Homo sapiens: one gene and its partners. The protein of the gene in region 1 interacts with the protein of each later gene in a biochemical or structural test. Each region holds a gene or a part of one and is shown in the gene's direction. Other genes may lie near its edges. The genes, in order: GOPC, CLCN3, TTC24, RSRC2, TECPR2, NRXN3 and USH1C.

The links.
Region 2: the proteins of GOPC (region 1) and CLCN3 form a complex in vitro, tested with the Homo sapiens proteins (one study listed by BioGRID).
Region 3: the proteins of GOPC (region 1) and TTC24 interact in a test that uses a peptide from one of them, tested with the Homo sapiens proteins (one large-scale study listed by IntAct).
Region 4: the proteins of GOPC (region 1) and RSRC2 interact in a test that uses a peptide from one of them, tested with the Homo sapiens proteins (one large-scale study listed by IntAct).
Region 5: the proteins of GOPC (region 1) and TECPR2 interact in a test that uses a peptide from one of them, tested with the Homo sapiens proteins (one large-scale study listed by IntAct).
Region 6: the proteins of GOPC (region 1) and NRXN3 interact in a test that uses a peptide from one of them, tested with the Homo sapiens proteins (one large-scale study listed by IntAct).
Region 7: the proteins of GOPC (region 1) and USH1C interact in a test that uses a peptide from one of them, tested with the Homo sapiens proteins (one large-scale study listed by IntAct).

Annotation. Positions count from the first base shown.
Region 1 is NC_000006.12:117,559,353-117,562,761, reverse strand, and holds the end of GOPC (Golgi-associated PDZ and coiled-coil motif-containing protein), read left to right. Parts: 3' UTR 1-2,493; downstream 2,494-3,409.
Region 2 is NC_000004.12:169,626,596-169,631,132, forward strand, and holds part of CLCN3 (H(+)/Cl(-) exchange transporter 3), read left to right. Parts: intron 1-4,537.
Region 3 is NC_000001.11:156,578,438-156,582,522, forward strand, and holds the start of TTC24 (tetratricopeptide repeat protein 24), read left to right. Parts: upstream 1-1,285; 5' UTR 1,286-1,321; intron 1,322-2,923; 5' UTR 2,924-2,927; coding exon 2,928-3,633; intron 3,634-3,793; coding exon 3,794-3,997; intron 3,998-4,085.
Region 4 is NC_000012.12:122,505,819-122,510,346, reverse strand, and holds part of RSRC2 (arginine/serine-rich coiled-coil protein 2), read left to right. Parts: intron 1-1,896; coding exon of another isoform or gene 1,897-1,899; coding exon 1,900-2,129; intron 2,130-3,423; coding exon 3,424-3,513; intron 3,514-4,528.
Region 5 is NC_000014.9:102,365,861-102,370,397, forward strand, and holds part of TECPR2 (tectonin beta-propeller repeat-containing protein 2), read left to right. Parts: intron 1-3,883; exon of another isoform or gene 3,884-3,915; intron 3,916-4,537. UniProt on the Homo sapiens protein: Probably plays a role as positive regulator of autophagy.
Region 6 is NC_000014.9:78,708,443-78,712,979, forward strand, and holds part of NRXN3 (neurexin 3), read left to right. Parts: intron 1-339; exon of another isoform or gene 340-774; coding exon 775-1,213; exon of another isoform or gene 1,214-1,518; intron 1,519-4,537. UniProt on the Homo sapiens protein: Neuronal cell surface protein that may be involved in cell recognition and cell adhesion. May mediate intracellular signaling. Functions as part of a trans-synaptic complex by binding to cerebellins and postsynaptic GRID1.
Region 7 is NC_000011.10:17,509,794-17,514,330, reverse strand, and holds part of USH1C (harmonin), read left to right. Parts: intron 1-2,276; coding exon 2,277-2,429; intron 2,430-3,809; coding exon 3,810-3,926; intron 3,927-4,492; coding exon 4,493-4,537. UniProt on the Homo sapiens protein: Anchoring/scaffolding protein that is a part of the functional network formed by USH1C, USH1G, CDH23 and MYO7A that mediates mechanotransduction in cochlear hair cells. Required for normal development and maintenance of cochlear hair cell bundles.

The DNA of each region.
Region 1 (3,409 bases):
AGGCTTTAGACTTAAAAAAATTTATTGTGCATCCTAAAATCTAAACCAATTATTAATGATCATTTATTGTAATGAGTTTGCATTTCAGCTTTATTCAATGCAGTACAAAATAGTTTTCTTTAAGCAGTCTTTTATCAATCAATGCTGCACTAGAAATAGATTCTCAAAAGTTACTAAACATTTTACTTTTTTTGTTTTTTAAAAGAAATGCAGATGAGTGTAAAACATCTGTTCTCAATTATGTTGATCTGTGTGCGCAGTACTGGAGCATTTACCCATTCATGTTGAGCCTCAAATGCTTGTTTTCTGGGGTCCACAAAAGACAGTTTTATACATTTTGAGTTGTTCATAAAGTTTGTCTTGTGATAGTCCTGGCACTTAAAGACAAATTTTTCTGGTAGTAAAAGTTCAGATTTATTACTATGTCATGAAACACAGTACATTCAAATCAAACGGCAGTTTTCTTTCTAAGTAAATGATTTCCAGTCATCTAAAAGGTGGGCAAGATGAGATAAAGACATTTTGATACAGTAATTGTTTTGGTTGGGTTTTCATGTCAGTTTATGTTTGACTAAAGCTCTCTTCATATGCAGGTTTATAAATTTGTTAGGTCTGTTGTCCCATGATTAAACATGGAGTGCCTCCTCTCTGATTTAATATTCTGCAGGTCATTGTAACCTGCTAGGCAAAGTCACAACATTGCATTAAAGAGGTGATAGCTTTGCTAATATCACTGTTTTAAAGGACGTACAGTTAAAGGAATATTAAGTGGGAGAAAGCCTACAAGGCTTTTAGAATATTATCAGTATCTTCATTTCTGGTATTCAGATGTTATGTGATAAAACACATTTTTTTTGGCTTTCCCAGATACACTATATATTTGTTCAAGGGTAAATCTATAAAATGTATATACTTTATTTTGTGGTTTTGCTATTTATAAATTTAATGTTTTAACTGTTGCTCATTTATGGTTTGTTTTGGGTGGTGGTGTTCATCTGTATATCACCATGTTAATTTGTAATGGAAGTGCACTTCGTAGTGTATATTGTTACTGACATTAAAATACTTTATAGCATTGTCTCTGAGCAAAAGCTAGTATTTAATTGTACAAATGAATAAGCAAGTTACATGTTATTGTTTGCTCTTGACAGGGTAGGCCTCTTAAAAGAAAAAAAACAACTTGTTTTTTCTTTATGAATCCCCTATGCCAAACACATACCTTCCATGCATGACATGAGATCTGCAAACTGGATTTTAGCCACCGTATTTATTTAGTCAAAAAAATTGTCCATTGTAGCAGACCCGAAAACCTTTTTGCTGTGACATGAAACCATGTTATTCTTATCTTCTTAAAACACAGCCTGGGATGGAATGGCCATGGCATTTTTTTCAGAGAACATCCTTTATCTGCTATGACTGAATCCTTAGGAAATGTAAGCTATAACCCTTTGATTTTCAAGAACTACCGAATAAGTGTATGAAGAGGTGGTTTTTTAAAACTTCAAGTTGGAATTTTTATGAGGTCACTGTGTAATTTGAAGAATTGTGTGAGATTGTCATGATATAAATTCCTTTTAAGGACTGATAAATAGAATGAAAAGTTTCCAGGTAGTTTAAAACTCCACAGGTCAGTTTCCTTTTCATTCCTGCTTCACTGTGGTTTATAAGCCTACGGGAGAGCACCGTTGCTCAGATGCTACTGTGAGCTTCCTGTCCGGTGTTAGAAAGTAACTAGTTAAAAGTTCATTTTAGAATGTATGGTTTTTGGGGATGAACTAAGAATTAGTTATTAGTTCCAAAGGACTGAGAACCAATTTTAATATTTTCACATTTATAGGAAAGAAATTCATATGTCCCTGAAACTTCTAGGACAAAACCAAACAAGTAAGGAGGGAACTGTTGCAAAGCCATTTCATCGAGAAGGGGACAGAAGGAGAAATACACACATGTATACACAAACAGAATGGTTGAGAAAACGTTTTAATAAAATGTGAGGGTTGTATGTGTGCGTGTATATATTTACACTTAACCTCTAAAATTCTCTTCTACAGTATCTCTGTTATGAATATGATGGAAAAGCAACATTTTGGTGGTGAGACTATTGTTAAAATAAATTTGAGAAAGACGAAAATTTTGTGAGTCTTGATAATTACAAGTCAACAGCTATCGAAAGTTAGCACAGCTTGTCTGTGGTGCTGTTTTTTTCCCCACTGCAGTGGACTTATGCTGTTTTCATGTTTAGAAACAAAAAGGTTTCATGTGATTCATGTGTAAGATGCACAGTATTTGACATCCTGATTATGTAATCCCTATTCCATCTATCCAGTCTTACACTTATGGTTGGCCTCAAATCTATTGCATTTATGATAATGTATTATATCTAGTTGAGTTTAATATTTTTTTATTAGCCTGTAAATAAAGATGGCATCTTCTACATTAAAATGATATTGATCTCATTTTTTTAAATAAACATTTTGTTTCCTTGACGTTAAATATTTTGGCTTGTTATTTATTTCTAGTAGTTCTATTATTTGTACCAACATGTCATAAAGTCTGTGCAAAGGACTTGGCTTAATTTTGTGTTATAAATATTGCCAGCTGTTGTTATCTATGAGGAAAACATTGATGAAAGTTAGAAAATCAATCCTGTTTTTAAGATACTATTTAAAAGGGTATTCTTCCATTTTGACATCTAAGTATATATGATTTAGAAGTTCCTAAGTTATATGTAAAATAATTTTTGGAAAATACTTGTAAATGAATTACTTGAGTTATGAACATTTAGAAATGTTATGAACATTAGAAATACATTTTTGTCACTGACTAACCTTGATTTAGTGCTAATACATATATGCTTTCCGTGTGTTGATTTAAGCTCCCAATTCACCAAGTGATTTGAAAAGAAGTCTTTTCCCCAGAATACAACCCCATAGGATATTGGTCAATTTATGAATTTTTTTTTGGTCAGTTTATGAAATTTTAAAGAGAACTTGTATTTTCATTGTTAATCAGTATTTTATTTTAGGTGGTTTTATAACTAACCTTAAAGAAACACTTTAAAAGTATTGCAAATTACCGTGCACTGTTGGTGCTGAATATTTGTTCAATAATGAACCTTTTTCAGGTGTGATTTGAGAGCTATAATCACCACGGCAGCAGCCATGAGAATGCATCTGTCAGTTCTCGTGCAGGAGGGAGCATAGCTTACTGAAGGTCCAGCTGCTGTGGTCTGAAATCCATCCCTGTGTACATGGTGAGGCTATGCTCCTCCATGCTGCTGCCAGTCAGTGACTGATTATGACAGGGATATTATATGATGACTCCTCAACTTTAGCTGGAGCACTCCACGATGGTCTTGCCAAACTCCCTTAGGATTACATTGTAGTCCAAGTTGCTTTCACCCAACCTT
Region 2 (4,537 bases), on another chromosome or scaffold:
TTGGGTTGGTGGAAAGGAGGGCAGGAAAAGGTCAGCAAGAGAAGAGATTCTGTTTTCTGAGGTTTAATGTGCCCCAACATTATACAAAAGACTGTAGTAAGGCCAGGCACAGTGGCTTACCTCTGTAATCCCATCACTTTGGAAGGCCGATGTGGGCGGATCACTTGAGGCCAGGAGTTCGAGACCAGCCTGGCCAACATAGTGAAATCCTGTCTCTACTTATATAAAATTAAATTTAATATTAAAAAAGAATGTAATAAGAGCTGTGGGACTTATAAACCAGGAACCATGGATGAAAACCAATATATATCATATCACTCTTAATTCAGTTATGCCCTATCTTACGTTTAGAATTGTTCAGACGTCTAGTCTCATCTCCAGCTTCTCTATCTGTAGTCCTTCAGTCTCTTACCCTTCTTATCTGGCTTTCACACTGCTGCTAGTGTTGGCTTACTAAAATTCATGTCTGATCATGTGATTTCTCTAAAGTTCTTCATGGTTTCCCCTGTGTATAGATGAGTATGTAAGTTTCTTAGTGTGACACATGAACCCCTCCCCTTCATGATCTGGCCTATGTCTGCCTCTGTAGCTACTCTCTGGTCCTTTACCTCTTACATAAGCTACCCAAGCAGGTTTTACTATGATGCTTTTATGCTGTTGCGCATACTTTTTTTGTGTGTGTGCCTGTATTGACTTTTTACCTCACAGCCCAATTAATTTATCCTAATTCTTCAATATTTTGCTAAAATATTCCCTCTATTAAGTGCTTACGGACTGTGTGCCAGCCAGCTTGCTTACTTTTCTCAGGTTTATCAAATACATTGTATGTACCTCTCCTGTGATGTGTATCATACCATATTGTTGTTACTTGTTGATGTCTGTCACCTTCACTGCCTTAGGAACAGAAACCATATCTTATTCATTACCCTAGCATCTGGCTTTGTGCCTGGTACATGCTAAGTGTGCAGTCAATGATTATCAAATAAATTAATAAATGACTCCAAAAACTAGCTTTGAATACTAGATAAATGGTGATCCTGTAAACTGAGATAGGAAAAGTAGGAGGACAAGGACTTTTGGGGCAAATATTTATTTAGTTTAGGTCTTGTTGAGTTTTAGCTCTTTTACAACATCAAGGAAGACATGTACCATTTATTTCTTATACATTTGTTATTTATTCATACAATATAATTAACCCAACAAGATTTTTTTTAGATATGGACAAGATTATTCTAAAATTTACATGAAAAGGCAATGAAAAAGAAGAATAAGGTGTGAAAGATCAATCTACTCAATTTCAAGACTTATTATGTAGTTACAGTAATCAAGACTGTGTGGTATGGGCATAGATAAAGACACAGATCCGTGGAACAGAACAGAGAACTCTGAAATAGATCCACATAAATATACCTAGTTTTTGTCAAAAGCATGAAAACAGTTCAACGGAGGTAGATAACTTTTTCAACAGTTGGTACTGGAGCAATTAGACATCCATACACTGTCCCATTCCCAACCCCCCAATAAAGGAACCTCAACCTATGTCTCATACCCTGTGCATGCACAAATTAAAATGGATCACAGACTGAAATATAAAAATATTAAACTATAAAATTTTAGGAAAAATAGAAGAAAATTTTGGGGAGGTAGGGTTAGGCATATGTTTCTTTGACTTGCCACCAAAAGAATACTCCTTAAAGGCAAAATTGATAAATTAAACTTCATCAAAATTAAGTATTTTTGCTCTGTTATAGACCCTGTTAAAAAGATGAAAAGATAAACTAGAGAGGGGAGAAAATATTTGCAGACAACACAACTGACAAATAACTAGTATCTGTAATATATAAAGAACTCTTAAAAGTCAACAGTATGAAAGCAGTCCAGCTAGAAAACGGACAAAAGACATAGTCATTTCACTGAAGAGGATTACACATATAGCAAATGAGCACATAAAAAATGTTCAGCATCATTACCCATTAGGGAGATGCAGATTAAAGCAACAAGATACTACCGTACATCTATCAGAATAGCTAAAATAAGAAATAGTGACAACACCAAATGCTGGCAACGAGGTCAAGAAACTGGATCACTCATACATTGTTGGTAGAAATGTACAATGGTACAGCCACTCTGGAAAACAATTTGGCAGTTTCTTTAAAAAACAAATATGTGACTACTGTATGACCCAACTATTGTACTCTGACATTTAGCCCAAAGAAATAAAGGCTATTCATTTTCAAAAACCTGTACATGCATGTTTGTAGCAGCTTTATTCATAGTCACCAAAACATAGAAACAAGCCAGATGTTCTTCAGTGGGTGAATGGTTAAACAAACTGTGGCATATCTGTTATCATAGACTACTCTGATAAAAAGGAAGGAACTATTGACACATGTAACACCCTGGATGAATCTCCAGAGAATTGTGCTGAGAACAAAGAGTTAATCCCCATATCATATCATTTATATAACATTCTTGAACTGGCAAAATTATTGAAGTAGAAAACAGACTATGGGTTGCTAGGGGTTAAGGAGGGATGGCCATAAAACGGCAACATGAGAGATACCTGTGGTGATGGAATATTCTGTATCTTGACTGTATCAATGTCCTTATCTTGATTGTGATATTGTACTATAGTTTTGCGAGATGTTCCCATTAATGGAAACTGGGTAAAAGATATACAGGATTTTTTTCTGTATTATTTATTGTAACTACATGTGGAACCACAATTATCTCAAAATAAAAATTTAATTAAAAAAATTGAACATCTACTGTGACACATTTTTTTTTTTTGAGGCAGATCTTGCTCAGTTGCCCAGGCTGGAGTGCAGTGAGTGGTGTGATCTCAGCTCACTGCAACCTCTGCCTCCTGGGCTCAAGTGATTCTTCTGCCTCGGCCTCCTGAGTAGCTGGGATTACAGGCACTCACCACTATGCCCGGCTAATTTTTGTATTTTTAGTAGAGACGGGGTTTCACCATGTTGGCCATGCTGGTCTTGAACTCCTGACCTCAGGTGATCTGCCCTCCTGGGCCTCTTAAAGTGCCGAGATTACAGCTGTGAGCCACTGCGCCTGGTCTAATGTGACATATTTTGCTAACCATTGAGTATACAGTGTTGAGCAAAAATTGAGTGTCAGACCTCATGACACGTTCTACAATGGCAGACAGATATTAAATAATCACAGAAATAAATTTAATATTCAACTGTGGTAAGTGCTGTAAAAGAGAGCTATAAGAACTAATAATGAGAAAATTTGATCCAGATAGTAAGTGGGTCAGCGAAGCTTTGCTTACTAACTGCATGACTTTGGGCGAGTTATTTACATGCTTTGTGCCTCAGTTCCTCATTTTTAGTGGGGACAATAATAGCACCTATTCTTTAAGGTTGTCATATATTTAATATGAATATTAAATGAATGAATTTGTAAAGGGCTTAAGATATTGCCTAGCATATAGTAAGCTCTGGTTAAGAGTTTGTTAAATAAAGGGATACTTGATGTAAGACCTTGTAAGAAAAATGAGTAGGAGAGTTAATTCTTTTTTATTTTTACAATTTCAACTTTTATTTTAGATGTGCAGGTTTATTCCATGGGTATACAGCATGATGCTGCGGTTTGGGGTACAGTTGTACCCATTACCCAGGAAGTGGGTATAGTGCTCAACAGTTTTTCAGCCCTTGCTTCCTTCCCTACATTGCCCGCGCTGGTAGTCCTCAGTGACTATTGTTGCCATCTGTACATCTGTGAGTACCTGATGTTAAAGCTCCCACTTAAAATGAGAACATGCTGTATTTGGTTTTCTGTTACTGTGTTAATTCACTTAGGATAATGGTCTCCAGCAGCATCCCCATTGCTGCAAAGGACTTGATTTTATTCTTTTTATGGCTGTGTAGTGTTCCATGGTGTATATGTACCATATTTTCTTTTCTTTCCTTTTTTTATTTTTATTTTTTTTTGAGACAGAGTCTTGTTCTGTCGCCCAGGCTGGAGTGCAGTGGCACGATCTTGGCTCACTGCAAACTCTGCCTTCTAGGTTCAAGCAATTCTCCTGCCTCAGCCTCCCGAGTAGCTGGAATTACAGACACCTGCCATCACTCCCGGCTAATTTTTGTATTTTTTTAGTACAGGGTTTCACCATGTTGGCCAGGTTGGTCTTGAACTTCTGACCTCAGGTGATCCGCCAGCCTTGGCCTCCCAAAGTGCTGGGATTACAGGCGTGAGCCACCGCACCCAGCCTGTACCATATTTTCTTTATCCAGTCCACTATTGATGAGCACCTAGGTTGATTCTGTGTTTTTGCTATTGTGGGTAGTGCTGTGATGAACATATAAGCACATGTGTCTTTTATGTAGAACAATTTATTTTCTTTTGGGTATATACCCAGTAATGGCATTGCTGGGTCAAATGGTATTTCTGTTTTAAGTTCTTTGATAAATCTCCAAACTGCTTTCCACAGGGGCTGAGCCAATTTACATTCCCACTGACAGTGTATAAGCATTCCATAGCCTTGCCAGCATCTGTTGTTTTTTGGCTTTTTAAT
Region 3 (4,085 bases), on another chromosome or scaffold:
GCTCAGGAGTTTGAGACCATCCTGGGCAACATATCAAAACCCCATCTCTATAATAATAATAATAATAATAATAATAATAATAATAATTATTATTATTATTATTATTAGCCAGGTGTGGTGGCACATGCCTGTGGTCCCAGCTACTTGGGAGGCTGAGGTGGGAAGATCGCTTGAGCCCAGGAGGTAGAGGCTGCAGTGAGCTGTGATCATCTAGGCACTTCAGCCTAGATGACAGAGCAAGATTCTGTCTCAAAAACAAACACACAAACAAAAAAAACAACTTGCAATCACACAGTGTAGTGGAAGGGACCCTAGGCTACTCACCTTGAATCAAAAAACCTAGAGTTGGCTGGGCGTGGTGGCTCATGCCTGTAATCCTAGCACTTTGGGAGGCAGAGGCAGGCAGATCACCTGAGGTCAGGAGTTCAAGACCAGCCTGGCCAACATGGGGAAACCCAGTCTATACAAAAATACAAAAATTAGCCAGGTGTGATGGCAGGCACCTGTAATCCCAGCTACTCAGGAGGCTGAGGCAGGAGAACGGCTTGAACCCAGGAGGCAGAGGTTGCAGTGAGCTGAGATTGCACCACTGCACTCCAGCCTAGGCAACACAGCAAGATTCCGTCTCAAAAAAAAAAAAAAAAAAAAAAGACGGGGTGCAGTGGCTCACACCTGTAATCCTAGCACTTTGGGAGGCCAAGGCAGCCAGATCACTTGAGGTCAGGAGTTCGAGACCAGCCTGGCCAACATGGTGAAACCCCTTCTCTACTAAAAATACAAAAATGAGCTGGTTGTGGTGGCGTGCACCTGTAATCCCAGCTCCTCAGGAGGCTGAGGCAGGAGAATCACTTGATCACTTGAGCCCGGGAGGCAGCGGTTGCAGTGAGCCGAGATGGCGCCACTGCACTCCAGCCTGGGTGATAGAGTGAGACTCCATCTCAAAAAAAAACATAGAGTCTAACCCCAGCTACGTGACTGCTCTGTGACCTTAGTTAAGTCACATCTGCTGTCTGAGGCTTGGTCCCTTCCTCTGTGAAATGAGGGGATGAAGTAGATGATTTCTGAGGGTGTAACTAGTAAGCGCCCCTCTGATGCCTTGATTCATTTCTTGAAGTGAGGGACTTGAGGGGGTGTGTCTGCAGCACTACCGAGGTTTAGCACTAAGATACGGCTTCAGAGCTGTCACTCAAATAATTCCCTACGACTGGAGGGTGGTACCTGGTTGTCTAGTAACCTCTAGGGCTTTGAGCTAACAGCTTGGGAGGTAACCCAAGCCAGAGGGGCCATTCCAGAGAGCCAGCTGCGGAGAAGACCCAAGGAGGTAAGGTGTCCTGCAGTGGGGATCCCCACACTGGATGGGGGTGGTCAGGAATGCCCTGGAGTGGAAGGCCTTGAAAAGGCAGGATTTCTGGGTGTTCTTAGAAGCAGGGGGAATTTCTTTTAAAAGAGACTGCTTTTCCTCTGCCTGCCCCTCCTAAAAAAGGGGAAAAAAAGGATAAAATGGGAGGGGTCAAGAGCCCAGGGCCTGGGTCTTTTCCACTCTTTTTCCCATCTCCTGGGAGGAGAGTTCATAAAAAGCTTTTGCCCTTCAAGGGGAAAAATACAAACAGGATATACAAGCTGCTGAGATGCTTGTATTCAGGTTTAAGAGGGCTCTGGAGACCAGAGCAGGAGGCTGGGGGCCTAGAACCAGCCAGCAGACAGAAAGCGGAAGAAATGGAGAGAGAGCTTCCCCTTGAGCTAGGGAAGGGGCAGTAAATGCATGTTCTGTCCCACACCACACTCCTTTTCAGAAAATCCTTCTCTCCTGGAGGTTCGCTCCTTGCCAATTCAGGAGCCTCCTCACCCTAGGGTCCCCAGTGCCTAGTGTGGTTCCTAGCACATAGCAGGGGCTCACTGAGTGCTTGTTGAACTGACCTGAACTACGTCTTGAGATTAGATAGCAGGAGTACCTAGATGATGAGTGAGGGGGGTGTCTGTGGAGGCACAGTGTGAAGGAAGTTATGGAGGAGAGGCCCTGCATATGCGGTTCCTTCATCTATTTATTTGCAGCTTTTTTTGAGACAGAGTTTCTCTGTCACCCAGGCTGGAGTGCAATGGCGCGATCTCAGCTCACTGCAACCTCCACCTCCCGGGTTCAAGCAATTCTCCTGCCTCAGCCTCCCGAGTAGCTGGGATTACAGGCGCCCGCCACCACGCCCGGCTAATTTTTGTATTTTTAGTAGAGACGGGGTTTTACCATGTTGGCCAGGCTGGTCTCTATCTCTTGACCTCGTGATCTGCCCACCTCAGCCTCCCAAAATGCTGGGATTACTGGTGTGAGCCATCGCACCTGGCCTATTTGTTCAATCCAAAAACACTCGTATGGTGGTAACATATACATAACATACAATTTACCATTTTAACCATTTTAAAATGTGCAGTTCAGTGGCATTAAGTACACTCACATTATTGTGCAATTAACACCACTATCCATCTCCAGAACTTTTTCATCTCCTTTCATAAACATTTATTGAGAATCTACTGTGTGCCAGACCCTGCAAGTTGCTCCAAATCTAGTAGTGGGGGGAAGACAATAAAGTCATCAGCTCTGACCCAGTGTGATAAATGCTATAAAAGACATAGGCATCAAGTGCTATGGGACCACAGGAGTACCCAGTTGGTTGAGAAGAAGGTGCGTTCTGAAGTAAGCTGTTACTTGACTTGAGTCTTGAAGGAGGACTAAGAATTAGTCAGGAAGTTAGAGTGAGAGTGGATATGGTGCCCAATGGGACAGAAGAAACAAAGTGAGAGATCAGAGAGCAATCCTTGAAACCCTGAGGGTCATGCTAGGGCAGGGGTAGAGCTGAATTGCCCTAAGGGGGTCCTGCTATCTAGAGGAAGCCAAGGCTGACATACTGAGCCCTCTGTTCCCCTTTGTCAGCCCTATGTCTTCCCCCAACCCTGAGGATGTGCCCCGGAGGCCAGAACCTGAGCCCTCAAGCTCCAATAAGAAAAAGAAGAAAAGAAAGTGGCTGCGGCAAGAAGCCAGCATCCAAGCCCTCACCAGGGCTGGCCATGGGGCCCTTCAGGCTGGCCAGAACCATGAAGCCTTGAACAACTTCCAGAGGGCCTTCCTTCTGGCCTCCAAGGCCCCACAAACCAGGGATACCCCTGTGCTCCAGGCCTGCGCCTTCAACCTGGGGGCTGCCTATGTGGAGACTGGGGACCCAGCCAGAGGCCTTGAGCTACTCCTGCGAGCCCACCCTGAAGAGAAGGCACAGGGCAGGCGACACGGCGACCAATGTTTCAATGTGGCTTTGGCCTACCATGCCCTCGGCGAGCTGCCTCAAGCTTTGGCCTGGTACCACAGGGCCCTGGGCCACTACCAGCCACAGGGTGACCAGGGAGAAGCCTGGGCAAAAATGGGAGCCTGCTACCAGGCTCTGGGACAGCCTGAGCTAGCAGCCCACTGCCTGCAGGAAGCAAGCCAGGCCTATGCTCAAGAGAGACAGCTGCGGGCCGCAGCCCTGGCACTGGGGGCTGCGGCAGGATGTATGCTGAAGAGTGGGCGGCATCGGGTGGGGGAAGTTGTGCAGGTGCTGGAGAAAAGCCGGAGGCTTGCCGAGAGGAGCACTGAGAGGCGACTGCTGGGTGAGACCTTCGGGCAGGGAAGGCATGGGATCTGGGGAGACACAGAGCCTGATGATACTCAGAGGGCTGGGTTTGGGGAACCCTGGAGGAGTCGATAGGGGCTGTACCAGCCTCATTTATATCTGGTCTGGCTACCAGTGACCCTGGCTATTCCCTCTAGGGCACCTCTATAACGATCTAGGCCTGGGCTACTCCCAGCTCCAGCTGTTCCCGCTGGCCGTGGAGGCCTTCCTGCAGGCCCTGCCCCTGTGCTGGGTGCCAGGAGAGCAGGCCACAGTGCTAAGAAACCTCGGGATGGCCCACAATGCCCTCGGCAACTATCAGGAAGCTCGGGAGTTTCACCAGAAGGCTGCTGACCTACACGGTGGGTGCCTGGGGCCGGGGAATGGGACTGGGACTAAGACACTAAGAAGGGGTTCCAAAAGGGGCCCAAGGCTTAAGGGTGGATGGCC
Region 4 (4,528 bases), on another chromosome or scaffold:
TGTTGAACCAGGATGGTGTCGATCTCTTGACCTGGTGATCGTCCTTCTTGGCCTCCCGAAGTGCTGGGATTACAGGCATGAGCCACCACGCCCGGCCCCAGATGTCTTTTACGATTTTGGAAATGTAGTTTATGCAAGAAAGTGAACTGATCTGAAATATGTATTTCTCTTTCAAGAAATCAAGTTTTTATGCGTAACAAACATTGCAGATTTCAAAAATTATCAGGCCTGGCTCAGTGACTCACTTCTGTAATCCCAGCACTTTGGGAGGCCAAGGCAGGTGGGTCACCTGAGGTCAGTAGTTCAAGACCAGCCTGGCCAACATGGCAAAACCCCATCTCTGCTAAAAATACAAAAATTAGCCAGGCGTGGTTGTGTGTGCCTATAGTCCCAGCTACTCAGGAGGCTTGAACTCGGGAGGTAGAGGTTGCAGTGAGCCAACATCACGCCATTGCACTCTAGCCTGGGTGACAGAGTGAGACCCTGTCTCACGAAAAAGAAAAAAACAAAAACAAAAAACAAAAAATTATCACGAAGAGCTTACTGTTGATTTGGTATGAAATTTAATCTGGAAGATGGTTTTTTGTTGTTTTTTACATTTTTGGTAAACAGTGGCACTTATTTGAAACTCTAAAAGTTTACAAATAGCCATTTTATTTTTACTACATCATTACTCTCTTTGGTAACTCTGGTTCCCATAATGTTGGTAATTTAAGTACTTTTTAAGGTTATATTCTGGACTGACAAAAATAGGTAATCAGAGGTGTCTTTTTTTACAGAGGACTGCTCAATCACAGTGGAAATACCAGGGCTTTATTGAACTTGGACTTAGCATAATACCTGCATACTGTTGTTGTTTTTGGGTTTTTTTTTGTTTTTGTTTTTGTTTTTTTTTTTGAGACGGAGGCTCATACTGTCGCCTGTGCTGGAGTACAGTGGCACAATCCTGACTCACAACAACCTCCACCTCTCGGGTTCAAGTGATTCTCCTGCCTCAGCCTCCTGAGTACCTGGGCTTATAGGCGCCTGCCACCACGCCTGGCTAATTTTTTTGTAGTTTTTATTTGAGACGGGGTTTCACTATGTTGGCCAGGCTGGTCTCGAACTCCTGACCTTGTGATCCGCCTGTCTTGGCCTCCTAAAGTGCTGGGATTACAGACGTGAGCCACTGCGCCCAGCCTTAGCTGCATACTGTTTTTCAAGTATATGATGTGAGCATCAAATGAAATGTCCATGAGAACATTTCATAAATTTAAAAAAATACAAGGTTTTATTGTTTTGTAATTATACCTTAGAAACACTATAGTTCATCTCCACTGAAATCATACTTTCTTACTATTTGCAGAATTCTCTATCCTCAAAGTAAATAAATGGGTTTTTTTTTTGTTTTGATACGGAGTTTCGCTCTTGTTGCCCAGGCTGGAGTGCAGTGGCATGATCTCGACTCACTGCAACCTTCGCCTTTTGGGTTCAAGTGATTCTCCTGCGTCAGCCTCCCGAGTAGCTGAGATTACGGGCATGTACCACCACGCCCGGCTAATTTTGTATTTTTGGTAGAGACGGGGTTTCTCCATGTTGGTCAGGCTGGTCTCGAACTCCCAACCTCAGGTGATCCGCCCACCTCAGCCTCCCAAAGTGCTGGGATTACAGGCGTGAGCCACTGCGCCTTGCAATAAATGGTTTATATATCAAGGGTTTATGTAGAAATATGTCCGTTGATGAACACAATAAATGTTTGCTAAAAACTTGTGAGCTAATACTCAGTCATTTCCTTGGATTTGGTGAAAATCCTGCCTTTTTGCACATTCATAGCTTTTTATAAATCGTTCGTTAATGTAAATCAGGAGGTTTATGTTTTAAAATCGTTTTAAAATCCATTTTTGTATTCTCTTCAAGCAGCTGCAGCTACTGGAGGTTCTGTTCTCAATGTTGCTGCCCTGTTGGCATCAGGAACACAAGTAACACCTCAGATAGCCATGGCAGCTCAGATGGCAGCCCTGCAAGCTAAAGCTTTGGCAGAGACAGGAATAGCTGTTCCTAGCTACTATAACCCAGCCGCTGTTAATCCAATGAAATTTGCTGAACAAGAGAAAAAAAGGAAAATGCTTTGGCAGGGCAAGAAAGAAGGGGTAAGTTCTCTTATTCTGCTTTTCTGTCGTTTATTCCTAATTAGTAATTGCTTAGAAAAACAAATTTGGGTTGAAAAATATTACTTTCGGCTTAACTTTGTAAGAACCTGGGGTGGCCAGACGCGGGTGGCTTATGCCTTTAATCCCAGCACTTTGGGATGCCAAGTGAGCGGATCAGTTGAGGTAAGGAGTCCAAGACCAGCCTGGCCAACATGGCAAAACCCTGTCTCTACTGAAAAGAAGATAAAAATCAGCTGGGTGTGGTGGCACACACCTGTAATCCCAGGTGCTTGGGAGGCTGAGGCAGGAGAATCGCTTGAGCCTGGGATGCAGAGCCTACATACAGTGAGCCAAGATCATGCCACTTAGCCAGGCATGGTGGTGGGCACCTGTAATCCCAGCTACTTGGGAGGCTGAAACAGGAGAATCACTTGATCCTGGGAGGCGGAGGTTGCAGTGAGTTTCCAGCGAAACTCCATCTGGAAAAAAAAAAAAAAAATCACGCCACTGCACTTCAGCCTGGGTGAGACCCTGTCTCAAAAAACTTATAATAAGCTATGATAGTCTTATTTGCCAGTTATTAATACTAAAATAAAACATAATTGATTGAAGTCAAGCTTTCAAAGAAAACTAATATTACCATAGAAGTAGTAAGGAAAAGAGGCTACTTGGTTTAGAATTTTTCATAGATTATGAGGTACTTTTTTTTTTTTGACATTATTTGCAATGACAAATGACATTAAATGCAAATGACATGCAGTCGCAAAAATTGCATGTTGAAAAAGGTCTATGACAGGAAAATAATCCATTTTTTTATTTTATTTTTATTATTTTTGAGACAGAGTCTTGCTCTTGTCACCCAGGCTGGAATGCAGTGGTGTGATCTCAGCTCACTGCAACCTCTGCCTCCCAGGTTCAAGCAATTCTCCTGCCTCAGACTCCTGAGACCCTCCTGGGTCTACAGGTGCCCACCACCATGCCAGGCTAGTTTTTTGTATTTTTAGTAGAGACGGGGTTTCACCTAGTCATCCAGGCTAGTCTCGATCCCCTGACCTCAGGTGATTTGCCCACCTCGGCCTTCCAAAGTGCTGGGATTATAGGAGTGAAGCACGGCGCCAACCTCTTGCTTGTATTTCTTTGCTTTGTGGTTTCTTAAGTCTTGAAATAATTAAACTTACATTGATTGAATGCTATCCATGGTGTTTTTTTTTTTAATTTAGACATTGTTGAGAGATTTCATGTCCTAAAAAATATTTAAATTTTACATATTTTAAAGTTCAGTGTTTGTTAACAGGACAAATCCCAATCTGCTGAAATATGGGAAAAATTGAATTTTGGAAACAAGGACCAAAATGTCAAATTTAGGAAATTGATGGGTATTAAGGTGAGTTTCACATGTGCCAGGGGATCTTTGTATTAGCTATTAGCCCTCCTGCACTGTTCTTCCCTCATTTTCTTAGTTCTGGTCTTTACTCAGGTGTCAGCGTTTTTGAGTTCTTTCCCACCACCTTTTGTGAAATAACAAGCAATCCCATTCTGAAACATTTCCATCTCCCCTACCCACTGTCCTCCCTACACACACACTTGGAGAGAGAGAGAGAGACGGGGTTTTGCTCTGCTTGCTCTGTCACTTGGGCTGGAGTACAGTGGTGCAGTCATACCTCACTGCAGCCTTAAACTTCGAGGCTCAAGCAGTCCTTCCACCTCGGCCTCTCAAAGCCCTGGATCACAGTTCTGAGCCACTGCGCCCAGCCTCCATCCCCATTTTCTACTTTACTTTCCTCTGTGGCATTTATACCCTGACATCTTCTACATATTATGTTTTTTCCAACCTACTAAACTGAAGTTAACTTTTGTTACACCCTGCTATATTCCAGACCTAGAAAGAACATTGCCTTGTCCTTTGGAGGTGTTCAATAATGAATGGAAATTAAGTTATTGAGATCAAATACATATCCCAAAAGTATATTTTTGTTTGTTTGTTTTTTGTTTTTAGTATAGACGGGGTTTCACCATGTTGGCCAGGCTAGTCTCGAAATCCTGACCTCAGGTGATCCACCCGTCTCAGCCTCCCAAAGTGCTGGGATTACAGGCGTGAGCCACACTGCACCCGGCCAAAAGTATAATTTAATAGTGTCAGCCTAGTTCACACCTGTAATCCCAACACTTCGGGAGGCCGGGGGGCAGGCGGCAGGGGGGATCCCTGAGGTCAGGAGTTCGAGACCAGCCTGACCAATGTGGTGAAACCCCGTCTCTACTGAAAATACAAAAATTAGCTGGGCGTGGTGGCATGTGCCTCTAATCCCAGCTATTTGGGAGGCTGAGGCATAAGAATTACTTAAACCCAGGAGGCAGAGGTTGCAGTGAGCCGAGATGGCACCACTGCACTCCAGACGGGA
Region 5 (4,537 bases), on another chromosome or scaffold:
TGGGTAGCCAATGGGGATGGGAGCAAGGAAGTGACAAAATTTTGTCTGGAAGATAAATGACTGCCTCAGTCTCATTACGTTCCTCCTTAATAATTTAATACTCAAATAATTAATAGATGTCGTAGCCAGATTTCAAACATAGATTCTACAATAGGGATACAAATTGTTGCTTCCTAGGGATTTTGGAGAGAATCCTGAAACCATTAGTGTACCCAGAGCACTCTGATAACATGGTTATTGTACAGCGAAGTGGATGACTTAGACTCTATATTAGTCCTAGCTCCAGTTTGAGAAATCATCCATCTGGGTGGCAGTTGGGTGTTAGTAGTCAGCAGTGAAGGCTAGCTGCCACCTTCCAGGGTTATGAGATTGACAGGGCTAGTGGGGAAAGGAAGCATCGTAACTTGAAGGATGCCATAGGGTGGTGTTTTGTATTTTTTTAACTGAAATAGTCATGACTAAGGAAGCATTATTCATTATATTTTTATTTATTTATTTATTTTTGAGATGAAATATCACTCTGTCACCCAGGCTGGAGTGCAGTGGCACGATCTTGGTTCACTGCAGCCTCCACCTCCCAGGTTCAAGTGATTCTCCTGCCTCAGCCTCCCAAGTAGCTGGGATTACAGGTGTGCGCCACCACACCTGGCTAATTTTTGTATTTTTTAGTAGAGATGGGTTTCGCCATGTTGGCCAGACTGGTCTCGAACTCCTGGCCTCAAGCAATCCTCCCACCTCGGCCTCCCAAAGTGCTGGGATTACAGGCGTGAGCCATCATGCCCAGCCCAATTTTAAAAATTGGATTGAGACTATTGTTTTGCAGTAAGACCTGAAGTTAACAAATCTTTACTGAGCATCTACTCTGTGCCAAAGCTATTATTAGATACTAGGATTTACCTTGGTAAGCAAGAGAGAATTCATGTTGCTTACATTCTTGTAGGAGAGATGATTTTTAAATGGTTTAGCAAATAAAGCAATTAGAGGTTGTAATGAGGATTATGAAGCACATATGATAGAGGAAAGAAGGGACAGTTGGGTACTCTTGAGTGATCTGGTCAGAGAAGGCCTTTCTGTGGTGGTGATATTTAAGCTGAGACCCCACAGTTGAGAAGAAGCCAGATAAATGGAGTGAGATCATTTATTCTGCATAGAGGAAATAATTATGACACCTGAGTGGGACAGAGTGGGTCAGTGGAGCTAGAACTTGGAGGACAAGTGGAGACGGGTAGAGAGGTGACAGGGGAGCTGCAAAGGGCTTAGACCACACGGGGCATTTGGTTTTTATTCTTAGAGCACTGGGCAACCAGTGAGGAGTTTTGAGTAGAATGGGTAGTATGGTCTGATTTCTCTTTGAAGGAGCTGATATTTTCCTTTGTTTTTTGGGGGGTAACAGCTTTATTGAGATATAATTTACATGCCACACAGTTCACCCATTTATATACAATTCAATGGTTTTTACTGTATTCACAGCTATGCAACCGTCACTACGTCAATTTTAGAACTTTCTCATCACCCTAAAAGGAAACTCCGTACCCTTCAGCAATACACCCTAACCCCTTCTTCTCCCAGCCCTGGGCAACCACTGACCTACTCTGCCTACAGCTTGCCTATTCTAGACATTTTGTATACATGGAATCATATAATATATGGTGTTTTGTGCCTGGTTGCTTTCACTTAGCATAATATTCTCAGGATTCCTCCGTGTTGTAGCATGAATCAGTACTTCATTCCTTTTTATTGCTGAACAGGCTTCCATTGTGTGGATAGATCACATTTTGTTTGTCCATTCATCAGTTGATGGACAGTTAGGTTGTTTTGACATTTTGGCTATTATGAGTGGTGATATTATGAACATTTATCTACAAATTCTTTGTAGATATGTTATCATTTCTATTGGGCATAAACCTAGGAATAGAACTTCTGGGTCACATGGTAACTCTGTAACCTTTTGAAGAACTGCCCACTGGTGGCTGCACCATTTTATTTTTCACCAGCAATGTATACAGTTTTTTCCACATCCTTGCTAACACTTGTTCATACCCTAGTGGGTATGAAGTGGTATCTCCTTGTGGTTTCGATTTGCATTTCCCTGATGAGTAATGGTGCTGAACATCTTTTTATGTGCTTATTGGCCTTTTTTTTTTTTTTTTTTTTTTTTTTTTTTGGAAATAAAGTCTCGCTCTGTTGCCCAGGCTGGAGTGCAGTGGTGCGATCTTGGCTCACTACAACCTCCACCTCTCGGGTTCAGGTGATTCTTGTTCCTTCGGCCTCCTGAGTAGCTGGGATTACAGATGTGCGCCACTATGCCCACCTAATTTTTGTGTTTTTGGTAGAGACAGGGTTTCACCATGTTGGCCAGGCTGGTCTTGAACTCCCAACCTCAGGTGATCCACCTGCGTTGGCCTCCCAAAGTGCTGGGATTACAGATGTGAGCCACCGTGCCTGGCCTTACTGGGCATTTGTGTGTCTTCTTTGGAGAAATGTTTCTTAGACTTTGCCCATTGTAAAATTGTCTTTTGTTGTTGTTTTGAGATGAAGTCTTGCTGTGTTGATCAGGCTGGTCTCAAATTCCTGGGTTCAATCGATCTTCCCACCCCAGCCTCCCAAGTAGCTGAGACTATAGCCACGTGCCACTGCACCCAGCTTTTAAAATTGTCTTTTTATTATTGAGTTATAAGAGCTCTTTATATATTCTGGGTAAAATCTCTTTATCAGATATATAACCAGGAGATATTTTCTTCCATTTTGTGGGTTTTTTTTTTTTATTTTTGTCGGTGGTGTGGATTAGATGTATTTTTACTTTCTTGATGGTGCCCTTTGGAGCACAAGCGTTTTTCATTTCAGTGAAGTCAAAGAGCTAATTTTGATGGCTGAATGAGCCTGGCTTCTGGGGGCAGGTGTGGAAGACCATGGCAGCAGTGTAGGCGAGGGATATGATAGCTTGTACTGTGGCATGGCCACAGAGTTGGTGAGGAGGCGCCAGGCTTGAGGGAGGCTTGGAGATAGGGCTGATGGACTGAGTTGAGAGATTGTTGTACGGGTGAGGGAAACAGAGGAATTGAGGGTGAATACTAGGATTTCAGCTTGAACAACACTTTTGATTCAAAATGTGATTATGCTGTTACCTGCCGGACAATTGTGACAGTTTCTAATACCTGCTGGAGCCTAGCAAGGGCAGCCCTGCGCTCCCTCCCTGGGTTCTGAAGTTGCTTTTGGTAGGATTATCACTGAGTGTGCCAAGGAGATGGTCAGGGATTCTGACCTTTTGTAATACCCACTAAGACCTCCTAAGCCACCACAAATAAACATATTATCTGAGTAGAATAGTGCACTTGCTCTGCAAATGCACTTTTGAGGCAAATCTCTTGACTCCCTTCTAGCTAGACTGCAGTCTCAAAGCCCTTCTTGTGTAGAGCCTGCGAGCTGTCAGTGGATAGCATCAAATCAAGCGGATGGATTCTTGAAAGCTAAATGTCATCATTTGACAGAGCTACTATGAGGAAAAATATTTTTATTTTTAAAAAAGTTTTATTGATCGATTGATTTGAGATGGGGTCTTGCTCTGTCACCTAGGCTGGAGTGCAGTGGCTTGATCATGGCTCACTGCAGCCTCGAACTCCCGGGCTCAATGGATCCTCCAGGTTCAGTCGATCCTCCGGGCTCAATTGATTCTTGTGCCTCAGCCTCCTGAGTAGATGGTACTACAGGCACGCACCACCACACCTGGCTACTTTTTTGTATTTTTTGTAGAGACAGAGTTTTGTCATGTTGCCCAGGCTGATGTCAAACCCCTGGGCTCGGCCAAGTGCAGTGGCTCACGCCTGTAATCCCAGCACTTTGGGAGGCCGAGGCGGGTGGATCACAAGATCAGGAGATTGAGACCATCCTGGCTAACACGGTGAAACCCCGTCTCTACTAAAAAAAACAAAAAAACAAAAAAACAAAAAATTAGCCAGGCGTGGTGGCAGGTGCCTGTAGTCCCAGCTACTCAGGAGGCTGAGGCAGAATGGCATGAACCCGGGAGGCGGAGCTTGCAGTGAGCCGAGATCGCATCACTGTACTCCAGCCTGGGCGACAGAGTGAGACTCTGTCTCAAAAAAATAAATAAACAAACAAGCAAACAAACAAACCCTTGGGCTCAAGTGATCTGCCCACCTCAACCTCCCAAAGTACTGGGATTACAGATGTGAGCCACTGTGCCTGGCTGAGGAATAACTTTTTTTTTTTTGAGACAGAGTTTCGCTCTTGTTGCCCAGGCTGGAGTGCAATGGCACAATCTTGGTTCACTGGAACCTCTGCCTCCTGGGTTCAAGCGATTCTCCTGCCTCAGCCTCCTGAGTAGCTGAGATTACGGGCACCTCCCACCATGCCCAGCTAATTTTTGTGTTTTAATAGAGATGAGGTTTCACCAAGTTGGTCATGCTGGTCTCAAACTCCTGACCTCAGGTGATCCACCCACCTCAGGCTCCCAAAGTGCTGGGATTACACGCGTGAACCACCACACCCGGCCGGTAATAAGATTTTTAAAGGAGGAAAT
Region 6 (4,537 bases), on another chromosome or scaffold:
CAAAAACAGACCTCTGTCCCCACCAGCTTTTAACACTTACTCTTTTCTTTCAAGTAATATATCCACATGGTTGAAAAAAAGTCTAACACTGTAAGAGGGCACAGTGAAAAGTAAGTCACCCTCCCACTCCAGAATATTAATCCCGCAAATATACTCCCCAATGACAATTTTATAGTTCCAAAGAGACTTTATGCTTACTGGAGCATATATACATATAATGCCCCCACGCCCCCACACTTTTACACAATGATAACATAATGCACCCTCTATCCTGTTCCTTGACAATTTCACTTAACAATGTGACCTGGAGAGCTTCCACATCAAAACCAAAAGCAATACCTTGTTTGCAAGGCCTGCCTAATATTCCATTATAACGCTGTGCCATCTGCTATTGATGGTCATTTAGGTTGTTTCTGGTATTTTACTAAGGGTGCTTCAGTAAATCACTTTGTATGAAGTATGTGAATCCATGCAACTCGATCTCTCTTGATTTTTATTTGCAAGCTTATGTTGTATAACTTTCTGACAACACAAGAAATTGGCCAGGAGACAAAAGAAATTCTGTAGAAATATAGAGGCTTTTTTGGAGCTTGTGTGCACATCAGATGTTTCTTCAGATACCTTTTTGGTTCCTGTGTCTCATTGTTTCTCATGTTGTTTTGGGCTATGTCCTGAAGCCTCTTTTTGGGTCATTTTTCCAGGTGCCCAGTGAGTGATGGATGGATACTGTTTGCAAGATTGATTCACATGGCACTTTTGTTTGGCTTTTGACAGGTTGTTTATAAGAATAATGACATCCGTCTGGAGCTGTCTCGCCTGGCCCGGATTGCGGACACCAAGATGAAAATCTATGGCGAAGTTGTGTTTAAGTGTGAGAATGTGGCCACACTGGACCCCATCAACTTTGAGACCCCAGAGGCTTACATCAGCTTGCCCAAGTGGAACACTAAACGTATGGGCTCCATCTCCTTTGACTTCCGCACCACAGAGCCCAATGGCCTGATCCTCTTCACTCATGGAAAGCCCCAAGAGAGGAAGGATGCTCGGAGCCAGAAGAATACAAAAGTAGACTTCTTTGCCGTGGAACTCCTCGATGGCAACCTGTACTTGCTGCTTGACATGGGCTCTGGCACCATCAAAGTGAAAGCCACTCAGAAGAAAGCCAATGATGGGGAATGGTACCATGTGGACATTCAGCGAGATGGCAGATCAGGTAGGAAGAGGCAGGATGTGTGACTGAGACTAGACGAAAGCTGTAGCTTCTCAGTTTGTTTTTTGGCTTTATGTTTCTTAATTTTCACCCTTGCATGCTTGTTGATTCTTTTGCTACTCTCTTTAATGGCTGTTGTAAAATTATGTTTCTGAAAAGATACCTGTCTCATAGATGGCTCACATTCTCCGCTTATCTCTCTTGTCACTCACTGCGCAATTGTCTCAGTGATAGCTCTACGATCCTGGAGCTAAGGATGGTTTTACAAGTAGCATTTCCACTGCTACCAGAGCAACTCTCATGTCACTGGTGTGATCCGCCCCCATTGCCCCATTCTTTGCTTCTCTTTTTCCTCATCACCATGGAAACCGATTGTGACATCACAGATGCTGCATTATGTGATTATTTTGTAGGATAAACTTCACTGTGCAAGAATTTATGCAACAATACACCCTTCAGTAATTGGCAAGAGTCATGTTGCATGGAGAAATTATGACAAGAAAGGAAAAGGCAAATTGATTTTTCCTGAAGATACATTCAATTTAAAGCCTTCCTTTGGTGTAAAAGCCTATATTTCACTCTTTGTTCAGACCTCACTAACTCTCTCTTCCTCTTCATAACCTTTTACATTTTGTTTAAATGGCTTTGTTTCTGCAGCTGCAGATCAAACAAGCTAGCCCCAGGCAGTACATAGCTACTATGGAATAGTAACAAAGTGGGGGTGGGGGTGGGGCAAAATAGTCAGGGGTTTTTGAATGCCTGGACAGTCTGCCTAGCTTTCTATGGACCATGTGGCAATGAAGGTCACATTCTGTGCTATCAGAAAGGGCATTTTCCCAAGAGCAGTAATTAGAGCATTTGCCATTTCAGACTCATTTCCTGATTCTCCATTTAGGTAGGATGTACTCAAGAAGGGTCTTGGCTTCATGTGCCATATTTATAGAGATTCACTTTCCTGATGAACATTAAAAAGTCTCTATTTGGATATTTTCTTTCTAGGTACATTTGGCCAGTAAGAGAGAGCAATAAGTTCCCCAAAAGGCTGAAACTGGGAGTGACTGAGCTTTGGTGGGTTGGCTTTTCTGCATAATTCCAAAGCTAGGCTGACGGCAGAGATAGCAATATTGCCCTTAGGAAGAGCTGGATGGGTTCTTTGCAGAGGGCAGATGGGTGGCAGATTGCAGCCCTGGCTATTTTATTGCCCAGTAGGAATCTTTACTGGTTGTCTGAAATCTGATCAGAACCAAGAGCCTTCAAATTAAATGTGCTCGTTAAGCAAGAATGAATAGTGTCTACCCTTTTACACAGAAAAACACCCAAAAAATTAATTTCTTTGGAGGCTAAATCCCGCCACACCCCCCATACTTCTTCTTCTTCTTTTCTTTCTCCTTCTCTGCTTTTCAGTAAAATGACAGCAAGAGCAGAGTCAGAAAGCTGTTCCAGAATTATAAAGAAAACACTGCTGTTGGTTTTTAAGAGCATGTGTTTGGGATCTCTGAGGTTAGGTCACGGTGGACGGGTTTTGTGTCTGACTAACCTAGACCTTGGCACAGCATAAAAGTTACCTTACCCGTGTCTCAGGCAGGCTAAAACACACAAAATTGCCATTTGTTCATTTCTGTCTGTTCCTAATACAAATTTTTCTTTCAAACAATTTTGAACAAAGGGGAACAGTTTTTGTTGTTTAAACCACCAGTGGACCCAACTTCAACAAATATGTTTGAATTTCAGAAGTCTTAAATTTCATACCTGGGAGCTAAAGCACTGGCTAATTCTTTTCTCTTTTTTTTTTTTTTTTTTTTTTTTGAGACAGAGTTTCTCTCTTGCTGCCCAGGCTGGAGTGCAATGGCGCAGTCTCGGCTCACTGCAAACTCTACCTTCCAGGTTCAAGTGATTCTCCTGCCTTACCTCCCAAGTAGCTGGGATTACAGGCACCCTCCACCAAGCCCAGCTAATTTTTGTCTATTTAGTAGAGACAGGGTTTCACCATGTTGGCCAGGCCAATCTCGAACTCCTGACCTCAGATGATCAACCCATCTCGGCCTCCCAAAGTGCTGGGATTACAGGAGTAAGCCACTGTGCCAGGCCTGGCCAGTTTTTTGAACTACTGATGAATTTGATCAAAGCCTATTAAAAACTTACTGAGTAAACAAACAATTGTCCCATGAAAGCAGTATAATCTAAAATTTTAATACAGTCTGTTAAACTTTCATTTTTTCATGAGAATGTTTTCTGGTAACTTGTTTTAGATTATAAATCTATACTAAAGGATAGTTATAAAAACAAGTGTATCTAAATGTGGTGCCTCCTTCCCTGATAATCTTGAAGAATAATATAACAAACAGTGATCTAGAAAAACTTTTATGATCACTCCTCACTTGGGCAAGTCAGTCTTAGAACTTGTTAAGTGCATTCAAAACTGTTATGGTCACACATTCAGAGAACAGATTTTCCTCAGGTTGTATTTAAGGCTCTAAAATTTAAATTGATTCTAGTATTGTCTTTACTTGGCAATAGATGTCTCCCCATTTTAGTTGGTGATCAGATTAGCCCTGTGGACCTGTGAGGGGTAAAGAAAGAAAACTATGCAACAGAGAAAATAGTAAGAGATAGAGACCTCAACTTCCTCCTTTGTAAGATAGAGAAAATAATAACTCCTACCTCCCAATATTGTTTTGAGGATCAAGTCCAAAAATGCACATAAAATAGTTAAAATGGTAGCCAGGACATTATTGTTGTTATATAAGTGTTTGAAAGATTGAAAAACAAAAGGCAAAGCATATTTCTCTAGGAGTAAACTTCTAGGAGGGAGTAGTGAAGCAGATTGTTAAATTCCCCTTAATATCCTTTCTATGCTTCTACTCTTGTGTTGACTTTGCACTTTATTTATTGTTTTTAACTTTAGTTAATTAATTAATTAAATTTCTTGAGAGCTAGTCTCACTCTGCCACCCAGCTTGGAGTGCAGTGGCACGATCTCAGCTCTCTGCAATCCCCACCTCCCGGGTCCAAGGAATTCTCCTGCCTCAACCTCTCGAGTAGCTGGGATTACAGGTGCCTGCCACCACACCTGGCTAATTTTTGTATTTTTAGTAAAGATGGGGTTTCACCATGTTGGCCAGGTTGGTCTTGAACTCCTGACCTCAAGTGATCTGCCCGCCTCAGCCTCCCAAAGTGCTGGGATTACAGGCGTGAGCCACCACACCCAGCCGACTTTGTACTTTAAAGTGTATGTTTCATTCTTGATCACGTCTGATCTTCGCAGCCCTTCAGGTTATATACCCTTCATAACTGAAGAAACTGAGAATCAGACAGAGGTGAAGGCTGA
Region 7 (4,537 bases), on another chromosome or scaffold:
AGGAGAATCACTTGAACCCTAGAGGCAGAGGCTGCAGTGAGCCGAGATTGCACCACTGCACTCCAGCCTGGGTGACAGAGCAGGACCCTGTCTCAAGAAAATAATAATAATAATATAAAGATTCAGTGTCTTCTATTTCCACCTTGGCAGTAAATCCCTCTGGGGCTCAAGGTTCCCAGGCCTTTGGCCCCACAGAATTTGTGCCAGGGCATGAAGGATTCATGATTCTGACTAAGCCCTTTCATCAGAATTGCTTGAGTCACTCACACAGACCAGCCCTACTTGCAGGAGCCCACCGTCTGGCAGGGAAGGCAGATTCACACACAGCTAAGTAACCTGTGTGGGGCCAGTCTGAGATCAGTGGGAAATGCCATGGGGCAACTTGCCCTCTGCATCTGTACAGATATGACTTTCTTGGGCATGAGACAGAAACTGTCTACTACCCCACCCAGAAGCCCTGACTCTATAATCTTAGCACTGGTAGTTTTTTTTTTCTTTCTTTCTTTCTTTTTTTAAGCAACAGAATGGCCATTATTCTCGTGGTGGTCCTGGAGGAGGCCAGGCTCTTACTCTAGCAAGCTACCATTAGGCAGTGTTTCTGGCTCCTCTTGGGAAATTGCTGTCTGAATCTCTACTACGATGGCAGGGATTCATCTATCAACTGAGTCTAGTGAACAAGGTAGGCAAGGAACCAAGCAGGACTCTGAAGCAGTGAGAACCATTTTCTCGAGAGGCTCATACACTGCTCTGGAGGTGGGTCCCAGAGGTGACCATTTCCAGAGCACATTAGCAGTACACAGAGGTGTGTGTCTTTAGGAGAGGAGCTAGGAAGAGTCCCTCAGAGGTCCATAATGGCCCACCAAGTCCCTCCAGCTGTGGATGAATGTTGTGTGTCCATTGCTAGGGAGCTCAATTCCTTATTCCTGGCCTTGGATACTAAGATGATTCAGAAAATTCAAGAGCAGATCCCCAGAAGGCTTGTTGGGGGCGGGGGTGAGCTCAGTGAACAGGGGGTTTCCTCCTTGCCCCAGAAATTGCCCAGGGTGTGGGCTGTCTCTGCTGCCCCTCTCCTGAATGCTCGCTCTGTCCTCCACGCTGTGTGTGATAGGGGCTGACCCTCCCTCCTGCCGTGTTTCCCTTGCCCCCAGCTCATCAGGGCACCATAGAAAAACTAGGACCTCGAAGACTCAGGTCCAAATCCTGGTACTATCAGTTACAAGATGTCTGACATTGAACAAGGGACTTTACCTCTCTGAGCCTCAGCTCCTTCATCAAAGAATGAGGATAAACCTACATAGGAGATCATTGGTATAAATCCCTTGGCACATAGGCAGTTCATAAATGATCATTCTCTTCCTGCCTTAGCCCCTGGCTTCCCTGCAACCCCATGAGAGAAGCAGCCAGGAATGCAGGCTCGGTGGGTCTAATTCCTACAGGAAAAATAAGGAGTCTATTTGCCTTTCATGTCCCTCCCCAAATCCTCTAGAACCCTGATGGTGAGTGTAAAGCAGTTAAGCCATTCTCTCCATGCCCTGCCTCCCAGTCCTGCAGTTTCCAGCTAGCCCTCGGTAGAGGGGCACAATTCAGAGGAAACTGTGGGTCTAGACTCTCCAGGGTGAAATGGTCCAGAGCTTAAGCATGCGGGTAAAATCTGATGTCCCTGGGTCTGAGCCCCCAGGTCTCAGTGTGACTCCTATCACTTCTAGCTTAGGACGGGACCTCTACAGATGAAGCTTGCCAGCCCTCCCAGATTTTCTCTGGAATCTCCCAGGATGCATCTCTGAATCTGAACATGAGATGATGCAGAAGGCATGTGCCAGATACTGGAAAATCAGCACAATGCCCTTTATTTATATGGCACTTATTTATTTTTTTATTTTATTTTTTATTTATACAGAACTTTTACAAAGTTCTTTCATGGATGTTATTTCATTGGCACTGGGTGGCAAGCCTGTGGGGGAGGTATTTTTACCATTTTGGAGATGAGGCAAATCAGGCCCAGAGAGGTTAAGGAACTTAGCCAAGGCCACACAGCTAGTTAGTGAACTAATAAGCCAGTCTTTCTGGCTGGTAAAGAGAATGTGTCTCCCACTCTGCAGTAGGTAGCAGTGGCCTTCCTGTCCTAAACCTGAGGTCTGATGTCCAGAGTGGTGAGAGAGCTGGGGGAGGGGCTCACCATGGGATGGTTGTGTTATGTGAGGACTGGATGCCCCGTGTGCTGTGCTGTCGACACTATTTCTAACCTTTGTCATATAAACAATGCCACATCTACTCAGAAAGGAAAAGATAAGAAGAAAGCCAAGTATGGCAGCCTGCAGGACTTGAGAAAGAATAAGAAAGAACTGGAGTTTGAGCAAAAGCTTTACAAAGAGAAAGAGGAAATGCTGGAGAAGGAAAAGCAGCTAAAGATCAACCGGCTGGCCCAGGAGGTATGTGTCCTGCCTGCAGGCCAGGCAAGCAACCCTGGGACACAATGTGGTCGTTCTCCATGTGCTCCCAGAGGACCAGCTGGAGTTGTTCTCCTCAAATGGCATACAAGGGTGGAGTGAGCCCTTTCCTGCTCCCCAGCCTGGAGAGAGAGATCATGCCACCTGCCCAGGGCCATCTGAGGTTAGCTCCTGGCTTAGGAATTGAAACTAATCTCCTTGCTTGGGGGTGTGAGTCTTGCTCCTGGCTTTGGAATTGAAACTAGCCTCCTTGGTCGGGGGGTGTGAGTCTGAGGTTAGCCTTTCTGACCAGATGGTAGGTCTCAGGTTAGCCTTTGATACACCTGGCTTAGAGATTTGAGTCTGTCCTCTTCACTCTACCCCACCAGAGTCTAAGGCTGGGCCTCTCCATCTCAGGTGTGGCTCTGAGGCTACTTAGAGTATGGTCTGCGGCTAACCCTTCTGCCTTGCTTGTAGCTTTGAAGTTAGGCTTCCACTGACCTGTCTACGAGTCTGAATCACTCTGGCCTCCCTTCCCAGGTTATTGTAAGACCAGACCCCCCCCCACCCAACTTAGCTTGGCTCTGAGAATATGGGTCTGAGGCTAACCCCCTTATGCAGGTGGTAGGTGCGAGGTTATCTCCCAATTAATCAGGCTATCAGTCTAAGGCTGCTCCCCTCAACATAGGGTGTGTCTAAGGCTAGACCTCATCAACCTGGGAATATATCTGAGGCTGTCCCCATGAAGACATGTCCAAAGCAACCTTACACCATGAATAATTCCTATGCTAGGTGAGATGGGTAACCTTAACTCCCCAGCTGTAGGAGGTATCATTGTTTCTGCTTCTCTTTAACGCATCCATGAATCAGAATGCCAATTTGATTAGATTATAAAACCAGAGAAGTCCTGGAAAATGTGAAATGCATTAGGTCTGACATTATGAACAAATTAGCCACAAAATTAAAAATAAGATTGAACTTATGCTTCTGAGGGCAAGGCAGAATGGAGCAGGAAAAAAAAGAGTCAAGTTAAACTCTTGGAATGTGCTGGGGGAGGCTACAAAAACTCCATTCTTGGAAAATCATAAGAGCCTCAGGGTTCATGGGGATCTGGGATCCAGCTAATCCCTCACAATACATAAGCCCCTTTTCTGATTTTGCCTACAAGTTCTGCTTAGTGAATTTGACACCCCGCCACTCTCTTCTCCCTTGCTGCTGCCTCCTTGAGGGCCAGTTGGAACAAGCCCAGGTCTCTTTCTAGATAGCTGATGCACCTCACAGTACTCTGGAGTTTCTAAAGGAGTGCTTTCATGCTATTTCTATCCACATGTTATTCAAATGTGCCCTTTGTCCTCTCCTTTCTGCGCCGATCCTGGGTCCCAGGTGTCTGAGACAGAGCGGGAAGACCTTGAAGAATCGGAAAAGATTCAATATTGGGTGGAGAGGCTCTGTCAAACGCGCCTCGAGCAGATTTCCTCTGCTGATAATGAGATTTCAGAGGTAACAGAGCCCTTCTTTCCACATAGACCCTCCTGCTGTCTTCAGAATGACCCACTGTGGGGACAGCGGGAGGTGAGATGACAACTAGCAAACGTCACTAGCCTCACAGTGCCCATCCACTGTCCAGGCCCACCCCTACCACCCCACTCCCCTCTTGAGGAGGAGGGATATGTCTGTATTTCTGGGTATACTCCCAGAGTGATCTCTAAGTCCCAGCTCATCTGCGATAGTCTCAGTTAGGCCTGTTGTCCTGGCATCATGACTAAGAGTCCCCCTTACACTCTCAAGGGCATTCCAGTTTAGAGAATGAACTCTGTGAACACCTTACCACCCACAGATGGCATAACTTGGGGCTCTTCTGCATTTGGGCACTCCCTAACAGCAGCCTAGTATGGCCTCAGCTGGGCATCCAGGTGGCAGAGGAATGGCGCCCCATGGTTCTGATGTAAGGGTGGTGGGTCTCCAGTAGCAAGAGAAACAGATTAGAAGAGCATAGTGCTCGCTGTATTGTGAAGTGGAGCTCTAAGCAGAGTGACAATTACAGAACTTCCTTGCAACACCCCCAGATGACCACAGGGCCCCCGCCTCCCCCGCCTTCTGTGTCTCCCCTG